Regions from separate parts of the Homo sapiens genome. Here region 1 is linked to region 2. Evidence: fine-mapped expression QTL. A gene starts in region 2. The other region holds a variant in brackets. All regions are shown on one strand. Distances are from middle to middle.

What was found.
Region 1: its variant is fine-mapped to the expression of TLR2 in cerebellar hemisphere (GTEx, PIP above 0.99).

Annotation. Positions count from the first base shown.
Region 1 is chr4:153,703,665-153,715,473 of GRCh38, forward strand. TLR2 (toll like receptor 2) reads left to right here. Exons shown (of 3, transcript NM_001318789.2): 3 at 1-2,596. The coding sequence ends at 1,598. RNF175 (ring finger protein 175) reads right to left here. Exons shown (of 9, transcript NM_173662.4): 8 at 8,811-8,912; 9 at 6,496-6,825. The coding sequence ends at 6,705. Among named protein-coding and RNA genes, the nearest start is that of TLR2, 25 kb to the left of the region's middle. The variant T/C (reference allele first, on the strand shown) is at 6,747.
Region 2 is chr4:153,677,728-153,689,536 of GRCh38, forward strand. It overlaps TLR2 (toll like receptor 2), which reads left to right and starts at 6,553. Exons shown (of 3, transcript NM_001318789.2): 1 at 6,553-6,633; 2 at 10,175-10,320. It also overlaps the pseudogene LOC100419170. RefSeq lists silencers at 6,271-6,450, 6,731-6,820.

The DNA.
Region 1 (11,809 bases), 26 kb after region 2:
AGTTTACATTTAGAAATGTGAAAATCACCGATGAAAGTTTGTTTCAGGTTATGAAACTTTTGAATCAGATTTCTGGATTGTTAGAATTAGAGTTTGATGACTGTACCCTTAATGGAGTTGGTAATTTTAGAGCATCTGATAATGACAGAGTTATAGATCCAGGTAAAGTGGAAACGTTAACAATCCGGAGGCTGCATATTCCAAGGTTTTACTTATTTTATGATCTGAGCACTTTATATTCACTTACAGAAAGAGTTAAAAGAATCACAGTAGAAAACAGTAAAGTTTTTCTGGTTCCTTGTTTACTTTCACAACATTTAAAATCATTAGAATACTTGGATCTCAGTGAAAATTTGATGGTTGAAGAATACTTGAAAAATTCAGCCTGTGAGGATGCCTGGCCCTCTCTACAAACTTTAATTTTAAGGCAAAATCATTTGGCATCATTGGAAAAAACCGGAGAGACTTTGCTCACTCTGAAAAACTTGACTAACATTGATATCAGTAAGAATAGTTTTCATTCTATGCCTGAAACTTGTCAGTGGCCAGAAAAGATGAAATATTTGAACTTATCCAGCACACGAATACACAGTGTAACAGGCTGCATTCCCAAGACACTGGAAATTTTAGATGTTAGCAACAACAATCTCAATTTATTTTCTTTGAATTTGCCGCAACTCAAAGAACTTTATATTTCCAGAAATAAGTTGATGACTCTACCAGATGCCTCCCTCTTACCCATGTTACTAGTATTGAAAATCAGTAGGAATGCAATAACTACGTTTTCTAAGGAGCAACTTGACTCATTTCACACACTGAAGACTTTGGAAGCTGGTGGCAATAACTTCATTTGCTCCTGTGAATTCCTCTCCTTCACTCAGGAGCAGCAAGCACTGGCCAAAGTCTTGATTGATTGGCCAGCAAATTACCTGTGTGACTCTCCATCCCATGTGCGTGGCCAGCAGGTTCAGGATGTCCGCCTCTCGGTGTCGGAATGTCACAGGACAGCACTGGTGTCTGGCATGTGCTGTGCTCTGTTCCTGCTGATCCTGCTCACGGGGGTCCTGTGCCACCGTTTCCATGGCCTGTGGTATATGAAAATGATGTGGGCCTGGCTCCAGGCCAAAAGGAAGCCCAGGAAAGCTCCCAGCAGGAACATCTGCTATGATGCATTTGTTTCTTACAGTGAGCGGGATGCCTACTGGGTGGAGAACCTTATGGTCCAGGAGCTGGAGAACTTCAATCCCCCCTTCAAGTTGTGTCTTCATAAGCGGGACTTCATTCCTGGCAAGTGGATCATTGACAATATCATTGACTCCATTGAAAAGAGCCACAAAACTGTCTTTGTGCTTTCTGAAAACTTTGTGAAGAGTGAGTGGTGCAAGTATGAACTGGACTTCTCCCATTTCCGTCTTTTTGATGAGAACAATGATGCTGCCATTCTCATTCTTCTGGAGCCCATTGAGAAAAAAGCCATTCCCCAGCGCTTCTGCAAGCTGCGGAAGATAATGAACACCAAGACCTACCTGGAGTGGCCCATGGACGAGGCTCAGCGGGAAGGATTTTGGGTAAATCTGAGAGCTGCGATAAAGTCCTAGGTTCCCATATTTAAGACCAGTCTTTGTCTAGTTGGGATCTTTATGTCACTAGTTATAGTTAAGTTCATTCAGACATAATTATATAAAAACTACGTGGATGTACCGTCATTTGAGGACTTGCTTACTAAAACTACAAAACTTCAAATTTTGTCTGGGGTGCTGTTTTATAAACATATGCCAGATTTAAAAATTGGTTTTTGGTTTTTCTTTTTTCTATGAGATAACCATGATCATAAGTCTATTACTGATATCTGAATATAGTCCCTTGGTATCCAAGGGAATTGGTTGCAGGATCCTCGTGGATATCAAAATTCATAGATGATCAAGTCCCTTATAAGAGTGGCATAGTATTTGCATATAACCTGTGTACATTCTCCTGTATACTTTAAATCATCTCTAGATTACTTATGATACCCAATACAATGTAAATACTATGTAAATAGTTGTACTGTCTTTTTATTTATATTATTATTGTTATTTTTTATTTTCAAAATTTTTAAAACATACTTTTGATCCACAGTTGGTTGACTTCATGGATGCAGAACCCATGGATATAGAGGGCCAACTGTAATCTGTAGCAACTGGCTTAGTTCATTAGGAAACAGCACAAATGAACTTAAGATTCTCAATGACTGTGTCATTCTTTCTTCCTGCTAAGAGACTCCTCTGTGGCCACAAAAGGCATTCTCTGTCCTACCTAGCTGTCACTTCTCTGTGCAGCTGATCTCAAGAGCAACAAGGCAAAGTATTTGGGGCACTCCCCAAAACTTGTTGCTATTCCTAGAAAAAAGTGCTGTGTATTTCCTATTAAACTTTACAGGATGAGAAATACTAGAGGGTGTATTTTCATGTGATCTGGATCTGTCTTTCTGGCTATTAGATAGGTTTCTCCAGCCATAGTTACTTGAGAGAGTGAGTACACAGTGCAAGGTACAGTAAATTATGTATTTCTGTAATTTAACAAAATAAATACTCAGTTTAGGAGAATTTGAAAGACACTTCCCACATCCGGACTCTGGTCTTCCTCAGCCTCTAACTACCTTTTGAGTTCTAGTTATTGTCCAATCACTCTGACTCTCAGTTCCTGTTTTTTAGCCTATATCTCCTGCATCTTGTTGCTTTTTCCTTCTTCGAAAAGTCTTGTTTTTAATTCTAAAAAAGCCTGCCCTTTTTCCCCTTCTGAATATTTTAAAAAGTACATGTGAGCTAAATAGATTTTTAAGCAAATATATACCTAGAGTTTCCTCATAATGACTCAAAAATAGTTTGATACACAGTAATTTAAAGGTAGATACTACTACCATATGTTAATTTTGCAATCTAGGTATAATAATACCACACATTAAATTTTGATGCAACTTTCTTTGGTAAGCACTATTTGCTGATTCTATGTAACTTTCTTAAGCTGGGAACCATGTGAAAGGAAGTGAGCCTTTGACCCCTGCTCAATTCTCAACCAGAACTGGGTGTATGTGGTTAATTGGGCACTAGAGTCAGAAAGACCTGGGTTAGTAGATGTGTAATCTTTGGCAAGTCAGTTGACATGACCCAAAAAGTTTTTCTGTCTTTAAAATAGGGATGATGATCTCTATATCCTAAGATACTGAGAGTATGAAATGTAGGAATGTAAGTAAACCATGAGCCTAAGCTCCTTGATTCCCATTTTCTCTGGAGGGGTGTTGAGGGCAAGAGTACCACGCCTAAGAGAATGGGCACTATGGGTTCGTGTGTGGGGTGAGGGTGATGTCTGTAGTAGATGTTAGCTATTATTATTATTTTCCAAGAAGATATTTCATTCCCTTATATATTATGGCTTGTAAGTGGATATTTTTCTGTTATGGATACTAGCAGGGATATAAGGGATCCTGCTGTTTGCAGAAAAATACCACAAAGAAATATATGCTCATTAACTGCAGAACAAGCTTGTCCTTGGGGAACTCGCATAGGGCTGCTGCTGTTTCACACGACCTCCCAGAAGAGTGTTATGGAGGAAACGGTAGCCAGCCTTAAAAAAAATCAGGCTTGGTGTAATCCCAGCACTTTGGGAGGCTAAGGCAGGAGGATTGCTTGAGTCCAGGAGTTGGAGACCAGCCTGGGAAACATGGCAAAACCCTGTCTCTACCAAAAAATACAAAATATTAGCAGGGCATGGTGGCATGTGCCTCTGGTCCTAGCTACTCGGGATGCTGAGGTGGGAGGATCACCTGAGCCCGGGAGGTCCAGGCTGCAGTGAGCTGTGATTGCACCACTGCACTCCAGCCTGGGTGACAGAGGAAGACACTGTCTCAAAAAAACAAAATGAAACAAAACAAACGAAAAACAAGTTTAGAGGAAGGAAACTTGAGATTCCACAGACACCAAATACAGTAATGGACTTTCTGCTTTACTTCTCTGTTTCCATGTTAATTATGAGAACAAGGTAGATTTAACATTGACTCGATCTATGTTTAATTTCAAGAACTTAAAATAGCAACTGAAATAGCTTCATAGATAATTGATAGATTTAAAATAATATTTAAAAAATAATCTTTAGGACGGACGTGGTGGCTTATGCCTGTAATCCCAGCACTTTGGGAGGCTGAGGTGGGAGGATCACCTGAGGTGTTGTGGTGCCTATTCACATTAAAGGTGGATCTTCCTTTCCTAGTCCACTGACTCAAATGTTAATCTCCTCTGGCAACACCCTCACATACACACCAGAAACTATACTTTACCAGCTATCCAGGCATCTTTCAATCCAATCAAGTTGACACCTAGTATTAGCCATAATACTCTCCAATCTTTTTTCAGTGTACATATACACACTACTTTACAAAATTGGGATTAGATTGTAAATACTTAAATTTTATAAAGAAAATGGCATCTTCATTTTTTTCTGAGGCTGTTTAGTGATTATCTGACATTCCTGAACTCTGAGGGTCATTGTGAATCCCATTCAGATAAATACTGGCTTATTTGCCGAGAGTTCTAAATGGTTCTGAAAGCTGCCATTGTGGCTATACATAAAAGATAAGTGGGAACTAAATTAGAGATCAGTTTAAGGGTTCTTTTTTTTGTTTAACAGGAGAAAAACTAATTTTTTGTTAGTGCTTTATCCAAATGTGAAGTCTTTTATTTGTCAATAGACTATAAGCTCAAGAATCTTGTTTTATCTCCCTACCCCTTGAACATGCCTACTATATAGTAAGTATTGAATTATTGGGATGTTTTCAGAGTAGAGAAATAAGCAATTAAAAATTCTATAATCTGGATGCTGAATCAATCATAATGAGAGAGGAGAAAATGAAAAATCAGTTCGGTAGACAGCTAAGGCTAGTCTTCAGAGAAGCAGTCTGCCTGGAAAATCACAGCTACAGGCAAAAATAGAGCAGCCTGGGGAAAACTCAGACTGTACCTGCACAGATAAGCAGGCAAGGTCCAGCACAGAAGCCTTTTGTTCTTTGTGTGATTAGCAGGCTCCCAGGAAAATGTTTTCTCCCCTTTTCAGATATGAACACGGGGGGATCCATGGGAGATTGCACTGGAAACAGAGGGGGTTTACCTAAAAGAAACCCACAATTACTCAAACAAGAAAAAACTATGCTTTGTGCTTACCTAGAGACATCTCACAGCTGTATAGGTAGGTGGAGTTGTGCAGACAGGTTTTCAAATAAGAGAAGTTACTCAAACAGCTACAGAGATGAGAGGAGTTTCTTATAAAAGCTTTTGCATTCAGCTGTAAAATGGCACCCCACTTGGGCTCTCCTCTCCACTGTGGAGAGCTTTCTTCTTTCACTTACTAAACTTTTGCTCCAACCTCACCCTTTGCATTCATGCTCCTTAATTTTCTCAGTCATGACACAATAAGTTCAAATAACACCTTAGACAATGAGACAATGGACCCTGACCTATTTCAATAATACTGAAGCATTGGGCAGTTTGAAAGAGGAAAGTTCTCAACAGTAAGAAATTGTAGTGTGAGTTATCTTAATGATGGACCTTTGAATAGCATTAAGTATAGTGCCAATATCTGAACAAGGAAAATAATCATTGTATTTCCTTTCTACTTCATACAATTGTAATGGCTTCAAGTATTGCAGAGTAGATGTCTGGTGTTAAATGTATACAGTGTTGACTATTTTAAAAATGACCAGTAATTCAAAACAAATTAATTTTGAGAGTCCAACATATCATTCATGGGTTAATTCTTTCTGACTGGTCTTCTCTATTCAGTTAATTTTGTTCCCTTCTGCCAGATTAATTTACTCTTTCAGCAAATATTTTTTGAGTGCCTCTTATGTGCTAGGCAGTGCTCAAAGTGCAGGGGATATGGTAGGGAACAAAACATAAAATTCCTTGTCTTCATGGAGGAGAAGACAATAAATTTATGATAGGATTTCGGGTATTGAGAAGTACTATGAAGAAAATAAAAGCAGAGTGCCACAATGGAATGACTGTGCACGTGTATGTGTGCACGCGCACGCAGAGTGGAACAAAAGAAAAGTGATTCTTCTTGCTTTAGTACAGCTGTTGCATGGGTTTGAGCACTTTTGGCAGCTCCAGGAAACCCAAAGTACCTGTGGCCCATTGAGAAGGTGTGGCACCTGCTGCCAGAGGCTTTGGGAGTAACCCACTTTCTACAGAAGAGCTCTGTGGTGCAGAAGCTGCCACATGGTAACAAGCACATGGAGCAGAAGACAAGCACAATGTCCTTGACCATAGATTACTTAACGACTCCACCTACTTTAAAGATGTTGAACTGATGAGAAAGTATTAGCTATGGCTAAATGTTGTGTGTGAGAAGTACTTTGCAAACCTCTGAAACACTTTACAGATATTGTTATCAGTCAAACTGGAAGTAGAATGTCCACAGTGCAGTGTAACAAATGTGACATGTGCATGAGTTAAGAAACAGCTGTAATGGGAAAGATGAAAAAACATGCTTTATTTGTTTATTCCATTGTTCAGCTTCTCTTTAAATTCTTTCCACATGGACAAATTGCTTGACAACAAAGTTTACTTAGTTTTCTAAACACTTGGGATCATCTCTAAAATTAAAAAAATTAATATTAAATGTTGGACCAAGGATTTCAACCATGCAGTATGTTGCTTCTGGGGTCTGCTGTCCTATTCCAGCCCTAGTGAATAGATAATGCCTTGAACTATTCC[T/C]ATCACCACAGGTTGCCAGGCCACCAAATAACGAAGCCAATCCAGGATTTGTCCATACAGAAAATGTGTGCGCTCCCAGCTAAATCTCAGTTAAGGAGGTTGTTCTATATACAGCCAAGTAGCAGAAATATTCATAAATGTCATTTGCAAATATAATAAACAATGTAATGAATGGGTATTTCCTTTCTTGTTAATTCTATGTGCTCAATTAAAAGCCCCTTATGTGAGTTTTATAGCATTATGGTTGTCATTGTTACTTACACCACACCCAATTCCTGAAAATAAATTGAAGTTCTTTACAATAAAATCCCAAACTAGAAAACAAGAATCAAAGGCAAGGGTATATGCTAAAAGAAGGAAGAAGAGGGGAATGACTATATTGGAAAACCAAGGATAGTGGAAACTGCTCTAAATGAGCAAAAACAGCTCTGGGCTTTCCTGTAGTCATACATTAGAATGAACCCATTGTATATTACAAAGAATAACACTGGTTCATCAGATAAGAGAGACCTTTTTCTGCTGTCTTTGATAAACTGTGCTAGGGAGCTTAATGAATGCATAGTGTCTCCGACAACAATTTTACAAACAAAATGACAGCTTTTTCACATGTAGTTTTTTCTTATATTGAGTCTCAATAAAAGAGTAGTATATGTTTTATTCAACAGTTTATTTTCTCAAGACTACATAAAGAAATGAATGACCCTTTGTTAAAGTATCACTTGAGGTGACATTTATGATCATATTATCACCAATTTTATAACAAAGATTTATGCATTGAGGTTTTATAGGTTAATAACCAAAAACTGTTCTGGACTTGGTATCCTCATTTTAGAAGAGGAATTCCAGGACAGTGGATGAACAGGAAGGTGGAAGGATCATCACACACTTTTAGCCTTGAGTTGGGCTTGAGTGGCACTGACTCACCGAGAAAGGCCAGGTCTGTGGATGGAGTGGGCACTGCAGAGGGTGGTCTCTTGCAATGGTATGGGCCTTGAGACCCAAAGATCCACTGATGTTGCCTCCTTCTCTGATGCCCTCCTTGAATCCCTCCCTGATCTGCAGTGCCCAGAGATGAGGGCATTGCTGCCAGTAGCCATTGTTAAACCATACGTATAGGGTTGGTGAGGAACAGGGGAGCAGGAAGCAAGGAAGGTGATTCCTTTAGCATTGTAAAATTTAGCTATTACTTAGAAAGTACAGAAAGGCTGTCTCTTAGAGAAGAGATGGTACTTGGCAGGTTGATGCCAACCTTTCAGGACTCTTCTGCTTAAGGGAGGATATGTTTTAATTCCATTCCCACCCTGCTTCCTGAATGAGATATACTATGGTCTTGAGATAGTGAGGTTGAAGACAAAGTCTTTCTAGTTAGCTCCTGATGGGGGCCATTACCTTCCTGCGACCTTAATGTGACTTGAATTTATTCTGTTGCACACCTCTGATGTCTATACAAATCTCAGTGGCTGCCAGAAGCTGATCAACTCTGTAAATCTTTATTTATTTTCAATATTGTTATCACTAGTGTTTGGCCTAAGAAGAGATGATGCATGGCATGGAATTTAAAAAGCCAAAATCCAGACGGGGAAATACCTACTCATTTCTGGGAATAATAAAATTTGGTACACCCTAACATATTTTAAAAATAGTTTTCTGTACTCTAGTTCACATTTCGGCTTTTAAAATTTCAATTCCAATTTTTCTATTTATGCACCTATCTACCCACCCATCCAGTTCACTCATTTATTCATCCATCCATCCATCCTGAATATTCTTCCATATATTTTACCTATTTTTTGCAGTGTCTCATCACATTTCCACTACAGCCCTTAATGTGGAAAATATAGAACATAAAGAGTGGAATGTTTTCTGGCATTTAACTTTCTAACCAGAATAGTAATATAGGCACAGAGGAGAAAAGAGACCATAAGTCATTTTGAAATAGGTGGTTAGGGAAAACAAAAAATTTTCTGCTGGAACTATACAAAAACACTGAAACTTTTCATTGAAGAATATATCCCCAGAAACATTCAAGATAATCTCTTATAACCTTTTTGTTTTAAAGGATATGGATTACTGATCATCCTCTTCAAATCAACTTTCTCTTTGCAGTAAGGGCAAGTCTGCTTTTTCCCAACGATACACCAACCTCGGATGCAGAATTCATGAAAGCTGAAGCATCTTGTTAGGGAGGCTTCTAGATATGAAAAGGCAATGTCTGGTTCATGATGGCATGGAATGGTCCCATCTTCAGGGTCTAGTGGTGGAGTCATGACTTGATGAGGCACATCGCTTTTTTCGGGAGGTTCTGTAAGGGACCTGACAATGACAGTGAGCCTGGAGTCACAGCTGCCTTCGCTTTATGACCCTGAGGAATTTACTTAGCTTCTTGGCCTTCTTGCCTCACTTGATTCTGGTAAGAATTAGATTAGATAAAGAATATGAGTCCTTTTTTTTTTTTTTCCTTTACAGTGATGTCTTCCATAAGTGTATTGTTATATTTCCCCACCTTGTTATTGTGCGTTTCTCAGGCATTTACCGTAGCATTTCTCTGTTCTACTTTTTGTGCATTATTCTTTAGCTTCATGTAATCAGACTTGTCTTAGGCACTTAGACAAGTTAAAATTATTTGTGGTCATAAAGTTACAAATATTTCCATTAACTTCATAATTTTTTTTCTTGACTTTTAAAAGTACTGATAAGGAGCCAATTATTTTTAATAGAATATATACCTACTAAACTTAACTTCTCAAACTCTAGGCATTTACAGATCCATTTGTATACGTCTCCTGGTCCAGAAAGTCTGACCCTTTGTCCCCAAACTTGAGTGAACCCTATGTGTTCTCACAGCACCAGGGACTTACTCTAGTGTAGCAGGACTTTTGGTACTTACATGTTTCTCCTAGACCATGTGTTACCTGTAGGACTATGTCTCATTCATTTCAGTGTCCTCAGCACCTTAAGCCATGCCTAAGAAATATTTATTGAATGAACATTTGAATGACTCTTTCAAAACTGATTATTTTTGGGAATATATATTTCCATGTTCCCTGATACTATGGATTTGGGCAAAATGAACTATAATGAAATCCATCCTACTGATTTGTTTATTTCTACAATCGCTGCTCCCAATGTGACTTTCTGGGCCAAGATCACATGATCTTCTGACTGGCCTGCTACACACCCAGGTGAACAGCAACGATGTAGAAGTTCCCTCCCTAACAAATGGAGGAGCTTGGAGGTGTAGCAAGTCAAGGCCATGTATATAACTCCTCAGTATTAAATTTCAATGTAACCAGGAGTTTCCATTATTTTATGTTCTTGGAATTGGGGTCATTTTTGCAATATGCTTTAAAATAAAGTGGTGTATTATAACGAAGATTTTGAACCAAAACTCAAACAGCCTTTCATTCAAAAGGGCTGGAATACAGCCCCATCTTCTACAGAGGTATAGAATTCAGGGGCCATTGAGTCAGCACAGAAATGTCCACATTCTCTCTAATGTTCTTTTTCATTTTCAAAATCTCAATGCTGAAAAACTTGCACACTGGCAGAACTTCTGCAGAGCAAGACTCAGATAACCCATCCTTGTTAATATGACTCATATTTGCCCATTTCTCACTAATATGACTCATGCTAAAATGGGCCATTAATAATACTCCCTGAAAAGCAAATTTAAAGGTGACTACATTTTAGATTATATATGCACACATGTACAACAATCCCTAAGGGCTTTTAAAGGTGGAGAGAGAAAACATTTCCATTTGCAAATGGCAGAAGGGGCTCTGTTCCAACATTTGAAAAATAAATCATATTTAAAACTAGGGCCAGACTTGGAAAATTGCTACAAAGAATGAGTTTTTTGGGAAAGGTATCACACTGAAAAAACCACTACAGAAATCCATATGGGGTATCTTTGTGTTTCTTCCCTTAAGATTTTAAGGCTTATGTATTGGAGTAAAGGCTCCTATTACTTTTGAGATGCATTTGGTCCTGGTTTTACTTTCAGGATTGAATAAGTGGAAACTGTCCAGATTAAACAGAATTGAATCATAGGTACTGGACACCGAGGTATGACTGACTAAATTAAGTGGGCTTTAGGCAAAAGACAGATGGTTTAACCATCTCATAATGCCAGAGCTTTGAACTAACTGGGTACATAGCGATGACATTATTAAATTGATACTGTACTATAAAATAAAGATAAATGATACCCTTTTTTGTATTTAGGAAGAATTAAAATACTGATGATTGGCCAACCTAAGCCTAACTTTGGTATCCATAGCAAAAGTAGTGTCCATACATGTTCAGGCAACACAGGTTGATTTGTTCAGGGGTCTCGATGCCAGCATTTTTCAGCACATTGAGGCTTTCCTTAATGGTTACTGGAGTTCACATAGAATGCTGGTTTCCAGGCTCAGGCTGTCTGGTACCTATCATATGAAGATCCCTCAGCCAATGGATAGCTATTTGGGATAGAACCCATTGGTGGAGGAGCCCATGGTCCAAGAACAAATGTCCAAATTTTGGTCCCTGCTTTTGTAATCCAAGGTGTCTTGCTGCCTGTGGCTGTATCTTCTTCTAAAGACTGAAGCTGAGAAGAAGGCTTGGTTTCCTCCCTTGGCTGCCCCCAAGACTACTGTTGCCACAGGTAGGTTCCTAGGATTATTTCTAGGCAAAGCACTCTTTGTATTTCTTGATCTGCTAAGATTCAGACCTTGGGCTCCACTTGGATAGTCTTAAGTTCCCCCCTGCACCTGATACTTCACTCTTTTTCTCACCTCCAAACCCCTTCTTTCCCTGATCTTTGTTGGCTATCTGCTCACTTATGACTTCAACCAATTTCCCCTGCCAGCACCCTGCTCAGATACTGCCTTCCTGTCTATGTGGCATTAACAGTCCTCTTTAGAAAGGAAATTACTGGAGGAGGAGGTTCACCTTAATTAGCAGTTCATTATTCAGCAGGGACAAACAGGAAGACTCGACTGGGCTGGAGGATAAAGGACTGGGGTTTGGGCATGGAAGGTAAGCAAGATGGAGGAGATGGGGACAGGAGGAGGAGGAGGAGA
Region 2 (11,809 bases):
GCTCCAAATAAGTTAGAACTTGATAAAATTCTACCTTCTTTTCATATTCTTCTCTGAAGTGGTCTGAAAGGCCATATAACCCTTATATATATTAAAATGATATCAGTCACTCATGGTTTTGCTTGACTATGTGGGTGAAAATAGTGCACTATATTTCTTCATTCCCATCTTTAAATGAAGTCAGCTCTTGTGTGGTGGAGGCAAGATGTCAGTCAAGACAAGGGGCCTGGTCTAGGCTTCTTTCCCCTGAAGTCTTGTCTCTGCAATGGCCACTTCAGATGTTTATACTCCATTCCTCCAGGTCTAGCCCATATTCTGAAAAGGCAAGGCAATCCACCACTCAACAAGTATTCATTGAGTGCCAGCCATGCTATTGGGGATGAGAATAGTTCAGTGCATAAAAGAAAACAAAATCCCTGCCCCATGGGATTTACATCCAGTCATACTTAGCAGATGTGTGTGAATCTGGAAGCACCTTTTCTATAGCCTGACAGAATTCTTACAACAGGTGAAAACTACTTGCCTTGTCTTCGGGAGCCTTGTGCATTTGGATCTATCCTTTAACAACTAACCTTGTCTATCATCCTCACAGTCTGACTCTTTACTTCTGGGATAGTCCAACAGAGACTTGAGGAAATGTTTCCTTCTCTCTTTTTCCATTTTCCCAAATTTAAATTCATGAAATATATATAAGTTCTCTAAATTAAAAACAACAGGATATTTTACCAACTTTCTGTTCTGAACTAATTTAAAATTTATGTTTCCAATCCCCAGAGATATGAACTAAAAAGCCTGAAATAAATGTAGATCAGTCACTTGAGCTGACATATGAAGCAGTCAACTTTACTCTGAGACGTTTTGTTTGATCTTTCAAGTTTCTAAAAGTATTTGGAAGCGGGAAACACTGTTCTTCATATGAGATAAAAGGAAGAAAAAAGGACCTTATAGTCAGGCTCATTGTGAAAAAACTAATATTAAGATAAGCTGAAGCAATCAAATGAGAGCATTTGCAAATCACTTGTTGGAGGTAAAGCTGGAAGCCTATGTAGTTCAGGAAAATGGAAGATGAGATGGCTGAGATCCCACGAAAAGACCACGTCCAATAGAAACTGTAATAAAACAGAGCTCAGCTACAGGAATTTTCAATGATGACAAAATTTTAAAGACATGCTTCTACTTTTGTATTGACTAAAGATCTTCAGGTTGAAAGTGTCAAGATCTGCTTAATAGCATATCCTCTGTTGCAACATTCAAAATCATCAGGATTCTTAGATCTCAGTGAAAAATTGATGTTTGAAGAATAATTGAAGTATTCAGTCCATAAGGAAGCCTGAAGCTCCCTATACACCTTGAATTTCATGCTAAATAATCTGCAAGTTCTGGAAAATGCTGCTTAACTCTAGAAAAACTGACTAACCTTGATCTTGGTCAGCATATACTTGGTTCTTTACATATCACTTATCAATGGTCAGAAAGGGAAGAATACTTGAACTTATCTAACACAAAAATTCACAATTTAACCAATTGTTTCCCAGACACGAGGCTTACTAGAAGTGAGCCTTGTAAACTTTTATTTAGCTGCAATTTAAATAACTTTACATTTTCAGATATGTGTTGAAGACCCTACCAGATGCTTTCTTCCCCTTTGAGAAGAAGCAGGAAAAGAAAACTTTCTCTAAAGGGCAACTTGACTCTTTTCACACACTGAAGACTTTGGAAGCTGGTGGCAACAACTTCATTTGCTCCTGTGAATTCCTCTCCTTCACTCAGGAGCAGCAAGCACTGGCCAAAGTTCTTATCGGTTGGCCAGCAAACTACCTGTGTGACTCTCCATCCCACGTGTGTGGCCAACAGGTTCAGGACGTCTGCCTTTTGGTGTCGGAGTGCCACAGGGTGGCACTGGTGTCTGGCATGTGCTGTGCCCTGTTCCTGCTGATCCTGCCCATGGGGGTTCTGTGCCACTGTTTCCACAGCCCGTGGTACATGAAAATGATGTGGGCCTGGCTCTAGGCCAAAAGGAAGCACAGGAAAGCTTGCAGCAGGGACATCTGCTATGACGCATTTGTTTCTTATAGTGAGCAGGATGCCTACTGGGTGGAGAACCTTATGGTCCAGGAGCTGGAGAACTTCAATCCCCTCTTCAAGTTGTGTCTTCATAAGTGGGACTTCATTCCTGGCAAGTGGATCATTGACAATATCATTGACTCCATTGAAAAGAGACACAAAACTGTCTTTGTGCTTTCTGAAAACTTTGTGAAGAGTGAGTGGTGCAAGAAGGAACTGGACTTCTCCCATTTCCGTCTTTTTGATGAGAACAGTGATGCTGCCATTCTCATTCTTCTGGAGCCCATTAAGAAGCCATTTGCCTTAGTCAATCTGGGCTGCTATAGCAAAAATGCCAATAGACTGGGTAGTTTATAGATAAGAGAAATTCATTTCTCACAGATCTAGAGGCTGGGAAGTCCAAGATCAAGGTGTTGGCAGATTTGGTATCTGGTGAGGAACTCTTCCAGGCTCAAAGATAGCTGTCTTCTCACTGTGTTCTTGGTGGTGGAAGGGGTGAGGGAACTCTCTGAAGTTTCTTTTGGAAGGGAACTAATCCCATTCATGAAGCTTCTGCCCCCATGACCTAATCACTCATCAAAGGGCCCACCTCCAGTACCTCACATTGGGGGTTAGGATTTCAACAGATGAATTTCAGGAGGACACAGGCCTTCAGTCTATGGCTAGGATCATTCCCCAGCATTTCTGTTAAGCTGCAGAAGATAATTAACACCTAGACCTGCCTGGAGTGGCCACTAATGAAGCTCAGCGGGAAGGGTTTTAGTTAAAGAAAACTCCTAGTTTTTAGTTCGACCATTGTGGAAGACAGTGGTGATTCCTCAAGGATCTAGAACTAGAAATACCATTTGACCCAGCCATCCCATTACTGGGTATATACCCAAAGGATTATAAATCATGCTACTATAAAGACACATGCACACGTATGTTTATTGCGGTACTATTCACAATAACAAAGACTTGGAACCAACCCAAACGTCCATCAATGATAGACTGGATTAAGAAAATGTGGCACATATACACCATGGAATACTATGCAGCCATAAAAAAGGATGAGTTCATGTCCTTTGTAGGGACATGGATGAAGCTGGAAACCATCATTATGAGCAAACTATCACAAGGACAAAAAACCAAACACTGCATGTTCTCACTCATAGGTGGGAATTGAACAATTCCCACCTGGACACAGGGTGGGGAACATCACACACCAGGGCCTAACGTGGGGTGGGGGGCTGGGGGAGGGGTAGCATTAGGAGAAATACCTAATGTGAATGACGAGTTAATGGGTGCAGCACACCAACATGGCACATGTATACATATGTAACTAACCTGCACGTTGTGCACATGTACCCTAGAACTTAAAGTATAATAATAATAAATAAAACATATCAAAAAAAAGAAAAATGAGCTTGGGAGTCATCATGCCTCCTGCTCCCTTCCCCTGCCCCCAGCCCCCAGCCCCACTTCTGGCTGGGACCTTTGAAGAGTGCAGTTCCCTCTTCCCCATAATTCATTCTGTCCATCTACTCATTCCAACACACTTTTTGATCTGATTTCTATGGCTCAGCTCCAAGGTGCTTGCCTCAGTCCCCTGGCCCGCAGGAGCCCACAAAAAAAAAAAAAAAAAAAAACTCCTAGTTTTTAAAAGGGAAATATATACAACATGAAATATTCTGTTTTCAGAACTTGGTTCTATGTTAACTTAGAAGTTTACTACTATTATTTTGCATAGGCAATATTTTTGAAATGTCTTAAAAAATTACGGACATACGGACATCTGTGCAGAGTAAAAAAATTTTGAAGAATGTATGTTCATGTATAAAGATCTGTAAAATAATGCAGGATTTATGGCATATTTTCATTAAGTGGTTTTCGGTGGATGAGTTTCTTATTATTTCATCTGACAATTACAATATACTTTATGTGAAAAAGACATAGACTGTGTGTTTTGTTTTGTTTTTTCGAAACAGAGTCTCACTCTTATCTCCCAGCCTCAACACACTGGACTCAAACGATCCTCCAACCTCAGCCTCCTGAGTAGCTGGGGTTACAGCTACAAACCATCATGCCTGGCTAATTTTTGAATTTTTGTAGAGATGGGGGTCTCCCTGTTTTGCCCAGGCTGGTCTCAAACTCCTGGACTCAAGATCCTCCTGTCTTGGGCTCCCAAAGTGCCGGGATTACAGGTGTGAACCACCACGCTGGCCTTGTGTTTTCGGATAACTTTCAGATAACAGCTTAGGATTTCAGTTAGATGCTCAAAACTATGAATATATACAATGAAAGTTACCCTTTCCCCAAATATTAGTACATTTCATATGCCGTGTTGATTTTCTAACTTTAATCAACATTTTTCTTTTTTTTGGTAGAGAGTTATAGGAGGTCTTATATCTAGATACAGAAGGAGACTTGGAGTCTAACCTGGGATTTGCCACATGTTAACTGTGAGCCATGCGACTCTGGGCAAGTTCCCTAATCACTTTAACCAAAGGAATAGTAATATCAGAATTATTTATTGCATGTGTTATTGTAAGATTCAGATGAAATTCTAGATGTGAAGGTGCTTCAAAAATGTCAAGAACTAGGCCGGGTGCTGTGGCTCACACCTGTAATCCCAGCACTTTGGGAGGCCTAGGCTGGTGGATCACTTGGTGCCAGGAGTTCAAGACCAGCCTGGTCAACATAGCAAAACCCTGTCTCTACCAAAAATACAAAAATTAGCCAGGCGTGGTGGCACGCACCTGTAATCCCACCTACTTGGGAGGCTGAGGCAGAGAATTGCTTGAATCTGGGAGGTGGAGACTGCAGTGAGATGAGATTGCACCACTGCACTCCAGCCTGGGTGACAAAACGAGACTCCATCTCAGAAAAAAAAAAAAAAAAAAAGAAAATGTCAAGAACTGAACAAGTATAAGGACTGTGTCTGAATTGGACGTGCTAATAGCTTTGTGGACAGTGTACAACTACCTTCAATATATGCAGAGGACACTGATTTGTGGCTAAATAAATGATTTCTATCTGACTTTGCCAGACAATTCTAATTGACTTTGGGATTATAGAGCAATAGCATCAAAATCCACCTTAGGCAGTTCAACTAGGGAAGAGAAATAGAGAAAAAACAAGTTTTTAGTTTCAGGAGAAATAATTTGAAGGAAGTTTTCTTTTGTCAGAAATCACAAGGTAGAGAGCTGGAGATTTGGAATTAATAAGAAAGCATTTTCAGCCAGCTGGACAACCTGATGGTCAGGATAAAGAAAAATAGTAAGATAGTGACCTGTATACAAAAACCTCTCAATTTCATATTTAGGTCTATTGATTAAGTTTCCCTGATGTTCCAACCATCAGAGAGGATTAGGGATGTGGAACAGGGTAGGAGAAACAGCCCTGGATTTAAGGTAAAATTCTGGTTTCAAATCTCAGTTCTGTCATATGTTATACAATTCACATGACATTTTCTTGTGTAAGGGAGGAACAAGGATGCTTGCTCTGCTTCATATCTCACTTTGTGAAAATCAAATGTAATTATGAACATAAAAGGTAGATTATTAACATTAAGGCAGTTGAATTTTAAAAGCTTGTTTTCTTCCCTTATACATATTCCTAACCGTGGAGACAGCTAGGTTCTGTGGCAATGAAGAAAATTGATCAATGACTGTTTTTGGTATTACTTTGGGAAGTAGGGATGGAATAGGGGCAAGGGAAGGGCTTAGCTTCAAACTGTAGACAGAAGTGGGAAGCCCAAATCTTTGCATGGTGAGAAGTGGGATGGAATGTAGGTGCTAGAGATGGTGCACCAGTAGGGACTGTCACTGGATTGGGGAAAAAAATCCGGGGCTGTCCTTATCTGCTCCCTTAGGCAAAATCGTTCTGTGTTAGTCTGGAGGGTGAACCTATTTTAATGCAGGAGGGCATAGACTTTTGGGTGGAAGCGGACCCTGGAGATGTACTGGCAGGTGAATAGAGTGTGGAAAAGTGGGGAAAGGAGAAGCACGATTCATGAGCCTGAGTTCGGGCTTCCATGGATGGAAAAGCATCAGGAGTGGAATTTAAAGACGGTGTGTTTCAGGTGATGTGAGGTCCTGGATGCCCGAAGCTTCAAGAAAATACTGGTTGGGCACTTAGCTTTCCCTGTGGTTGCCAATCCCACGCAGGCCGCCTCTAGCGTCTCGATTCGCTTTTCTCTGACCTGGAACCTCCGCCAAGCCCCCAGCTCTCTTCTTCGACCCAGCCTTGCACGGGGCAGCTGTCGGGGCAGGACCCGCCTCTGGCCTGTCGCAGCCTAGCTCACGGTCAAGGGCGGGAGCCTGCTGGGAAGCACGGCCGCGGGGGCTCGCTCGGGGCCACCTGCCTGGAACTCAGCGCGAGGTCCAGAGTTCCCTCCGGCTGCGCAGCGGCGCACGTGCCCCGTGGAAGGGGCGGTTCCCGCACCCCAGAAGGAGGGGGCGCCCGGCCGCGCGGACTTTCCCTTTTGCTTACTTCCTAGTCCCGGGCAGGCCGGCTCGGAGGCAGCGAGAAAGCGCAGCCAGGCGGCTGCTCGGCGTTCTCTCAGGTGACTGCTCGGAGTTCTCCCAGGTACGTCGTGCGCTCCCCACTCGTGTGGTCTCTCTGCACCCCTTCCTGGGGTCGGGTCGGGCAGGGGCGGAGGGGAGCCGCAGCCCGGTCACGGGCTCTGGGGAACCCGGGCTCCCGTTCGGCTGCACCTGGGCCCCTAGCTCCTGTCCGGGCGGGGATAGCGGGAAGCGCACCAGGCCCCCGGGACGCCGGTGCTTCTTTGCACGGCCCAGCGCGGGAATGTGGACACCAGCGAAGCCGGCTCAGGTCGGCCCTCGGGAGAAGCAGGGGCTACACGGAAAGGGAGCCCGAGGGTCCTGCAGAGCCCGAGGTCGGGACCCCGCGCGTGCAGTGCCAATGGGCTGCGGCTGGGCTGAGCGCCCTTCCAACCTTGCAGGCCCCGGGGGGGTTGCCGCGGAGAGCTTCCGCTGGGGCTCCGGGCCTCTGGCCGCCACCTCCCTCGGGAGGCCGAGGGGGGCGGTGGCCCCGGCCCGGCCCTCCCGCTTCCCTCACGGCCTGGCCCTCCCGCTTCCCTGATTCCCGGTAGGGTCGCTCTCCCCGCCTCCTGGCCCCTCTTGGCTCGGATGACAAAGATTGGGTAAAGGCTTTCAACGAGCTAGCGTCTGGCAGGGGGTGTGTCCTCGCTCACTGGTTACTGCTAGGACGGAGCTTGGATTTTGGTCACCGTGGCTCAGAGGTGGGAAAGGTTCCGTGCTCTGGGTCTGTCCAGGACCCTGGCTCCCTAACCCAAGTCTGACCTCTGCTCCCTGGCAGGCTTCGCCCCACCTCTGCGTTCCTTCATTCTTAGGATGTGTGAGTTAGGTCTCTGATTAGAAAACAACTTACAGCGTTTAAGCAAAGTCGAGTCCTTCAAGTAAGAATGCTTTGAAGTGCCCTTTACAACTTCTTCAACTTCTATAAATATGAACTTGTGTTTAGAACTTAAATGCAAGCCAGGAAAGTCTTTTTCCTGTTTGAAAGAGAGAGAAAGAGAGAGAAAGAGGTGATTGGAAGTGGTGGGTGGGGGCGGAGAAAGAGAAGGAGAGTAATCTGGGTGTAGACAACTCAAAGTTTGCTGAGATGACTTTAATCTTTTGACTCTGTTATTAAGATTTTTACCAAAGAGCAACTGTAGCTATGGTGGCCTGACTTGAAGGGACAGACCAAACAAACAACAAAACACAAAACAAAACAAACAAACAACAAAAGCAAGAGCAGAAACTATTGGAAAATGATTTATTCACCAATATTTTAAAGGTTCTTCCTGTTCTAAGCAAGGAACATCTTTAAGTTCTTTATAATGTACCCATTTTACATTTACAAAAACTGCCAGAAGTTGACAGCATGTTTTGGGGGTTTCTAAGCTATCAGTTAATTTTTTGGGGTACAGTTTTATTGATAAACTAACAGAGTAGAAAAAATCTAATGGAATACCCCCAAATTTAAAAGAGGGCAAGAAAAGAGAGACAATAGAACATAAAACAAATGGGACAAGAATAAAGTACATAGTTGTCACAGTCCCTTGGGTGCTGCTGTAACAAAATACCTGAGACTGGGTAATTTACAAAGAACAGAAATTTATCCATTCATGGTTCTGGAGTCTGGGAAGTCCAAGATTGAAGGGCTGCATCTGGTGAGGGTCATCTGGCTACATTATAACATGATGGAAAGCATCACATGGTGAGAGAGAGCAAGAGAGGACAGAACTTACTTTTATAACAAACTCATTCTCACAATAAACTGCTCCCTTGGTGATAACATTAATCCATTTATGAGGGTACAGCCTTCATAACCTAATCACCTCTTAAAAGGTTCCACCTCTCAGCTCGCAGTGAGCCGAGATCATGCCACTGCACTCCAGCCTGGGTGACAGAGCGAGACTCTGTCTCAAAACAAACAAACAAACAAAAATTCCACCTCTCAACACTGTTGCATTGAAGATGAAATTTCCAATACATGAGCTTTGGGGCACACATTCAAACCATAGCAATAGTTCAATTACTTTAAAGCCCAAAATGTCAGTAATTATATTAAATGCAATTTAATACATCAGTAACTAAATGAGATAGACTAAATTTTATGATAATCAGACTAATATTATCAGACTAGACTTCAAAACAACCCAACAATCATATGCTGTTTACAAGAGACACATTTATGGATACTAAAAGGTATAAAGTGAACAGATGCAACCATTTATCAAAAGAAAGCTGTTGTGGCAATATTACTATTAGACAAAATAGAATTAGGAAAAAAATCATAACTGTAGATAAACGTTTCACTAAGTTAAAGGTTTCACTGAGAAGAAATAAAAATTTTGAATTTATAAGTACTTATAACAACATTAAGAAACTAGAAAATAGAAAAAGAATAGAGCCAAATTGACTGAACTAGAAAAATAGAAAATTCATAGAAAAATCCACAATCATAGTGGGAGATTTTATCATACATCTCTCAGTAACTGATAGAAAAACCAGACAAAAATCAATAAGGATAAAGAAAATGCGAACACAATGTAGTTCACATAAGGAACCTATACTACTTCCAACAGCAGCTGAAATCACAGAGCATACTTAAAATCTGACCATATACTGGCTCATAGAGTAAATTGCAATACATTTTAAAGAATTTAAATCATACAGAATATGTCTTCTGACCATAATGCAATTAAAGTAGAAAAGAACAGAAAAACTTATAGAAAATTCTCATATATTTGGAAATTAGTAAATTTCTAAATAACCCATGGGTCAAAAAATAATCAGAATGAAAATCAGAAAATATTTTTAATGACTTATGAAAAAAATTACATATAAAAACTTGTCAGATGCACCTAAACTGTTGCTTAAAGGAAACTTACAACCTTAAGTGCATATATTAGAAATGAAGAGTGACGAAAAATGAATGAGCAAGCAAATACCTTAAAAACTGGAAAAGGAATAGTAAAATAAATCCAGAGAAATCAGAACAGGGGAAATAATAATATAAGAATAGAAATTAATGTGCTAGAAAATAGGGGATCTATCAAGTCAGAAGTTGATTTTTTGAAAATGCTAATAAAAATGATGAACCTCTGGCAAGACAATAAAAGCTGGTACAAATAACTCATCTAAGGAATAAAATTGAGGACCTCTCTTTTGTTAAATGACATAAGCAGGAGGCCATTATCCTGAGACTGTCTCTACACTTTGAGTTCTTACATAATAAACTGCAACCTAATTTAGTATACTACATAAACAAACTGAAACCTAACTTAGGAGCTTTTTTTTTGTAATTAATAGCTAAATTTCCACCAAATCATAAATAGCCAAGCTTTAGCCAATCACAGGCAGCCAACTGATCAGACTATGCCCAAACAAGGTAAATGCCTATTACACCATACCCAAATAAGGCAGACTCCTAGCTGAAGCCAATCAGGTGATTACTATGCTCTTGTGTTTGGCCTATAAAAGCTCACTGCTCACACTGTTGGATGCTCTCTGAAACTTTTGTGAATCTGAGTGCTGCCTGATTCATGAATCATTCTTTGCTAAAATAAACTCTGTCAAATTTAATTTGTCTGAAGTTTCTCTTTTAACAGTGTTTGGTGTTGCAAGCAGGATCCAAAGGAGACCTATAGTGACTCCCAGGAGCTCTTAGTGACCAAGTGAAGGTACCTGTGGGGCTCATTGTGCCCATTGCTCTTTCACTGCTTTCAACTGGTAGTTGTGGGTAAGTTCCTGCTCAGACTTGAGCACTATACATTTGCATTTTCAGCTCTCTGACTTTATTTGAGCAATTCTTTGATGGATTGGCTCCAGAATTGGATTGGATTCAGTGAAGAAACTGAAACTGGACTGGTGCTCTAGGAGGCCTCAAGTAGATAAGGTTACTAGAAGACAGGGAATCCTGGGCTTATCTGGATTTAAGGAGTCTACAACTCCATCTGCAACTCCAGCCGATTTCATTTATAAGAATTATGGACCAAGAACCTGTGCTTTTCTAGAGAAATGTGTGAGCCTTACTAAAGGTAACTTAGAATTACAATGGACTGCTGAGACCAGCTCGGTCGTGGAGACCCTAACCCAGCAGCGCTAGAGGAATCAAAGACACACACACAGAAATGTAGAGTGTGGAGTGGGAAATCAGGGGACTCACAGCCTTCAGAGCTGAGAGCCCCTAACAGAGATTTACCCACATATTTACTGACAGCAAGCCAGTGATAAGCATTATCGCTATAGATTATAGATTAACTAAAAGTATTCCTTACAGGAAACAAAGGGATGGGCCGAAACAAAGGGATAGGCTCTGGCTAGATGTCTGCAGCAGGAACACGTCCTTAAGGCACAGATTGCTCATGCTATTGTTGTGGCTTAGGAACACGTTAAGCGGTTTTCTGCCCTGGGTGGGCCAGGTGTTCCTTGCCCTCATTCCAGTAAACCCACAACCTTCAGCGTGGGCGTCATGGCTGTCACAAACATGTCACAGTGCTGCAGAGATTTTGTTTATGGCCAAATCTGGGGCTAGTTTATGGCCAGGTTTGGGAGCCTGTTCCCACATGTCCCCCTTTTTTGTTTTGCAAAGCAATAAAAGCAAAGGCAGCTTTGTCACAGTGAGCTACTTCTTGCAGGAGTCGGGATTCGCATATGCATACTATACAAAGACAAACAACACAGATTAAAAGCACAACCATCATTGAAATCACAGAGCTTCCAAGTGTCTTTATCTATTTTAATGGGTTAATCACTGCTAATCTGTCTGCAGCTCCTTCAAGCACTCCAGTTCCTGGCATTAAGGTCTGGTGTGCCTGGAATGCTTTAAATATTTGTTCTTTTAATATTGCAATATGGAAAGACAAGTTTGTAGAGTGTCTTCTAGGTGCTTTTTTATTCTTTCCTGAATTTGGTCTTATTTAAGAGCCATTAATAGTTTCCACAAATCCTTATGTTTAGCTCCTACAGCGGGCCATATCATTTGAGGGTGAGGTGCCACTATACCATCATGTTTCCAGATAATAGGAACTCTTGCCATATTTCTTGCTATTTCTACCATCTGACCATTTTGTTTAGACCAGCTAAACATAGTGTGGCCATGGCACGCAGACTGAGAGGTGCAATTTAAGCTAAACATCCCCTTAGGGGACCAATCAATAATGATTCCATAGGAATCACTGCGCAGCACCTCTGCCTATTCTGCAATGCAATCTTCCCAAACAAGTATG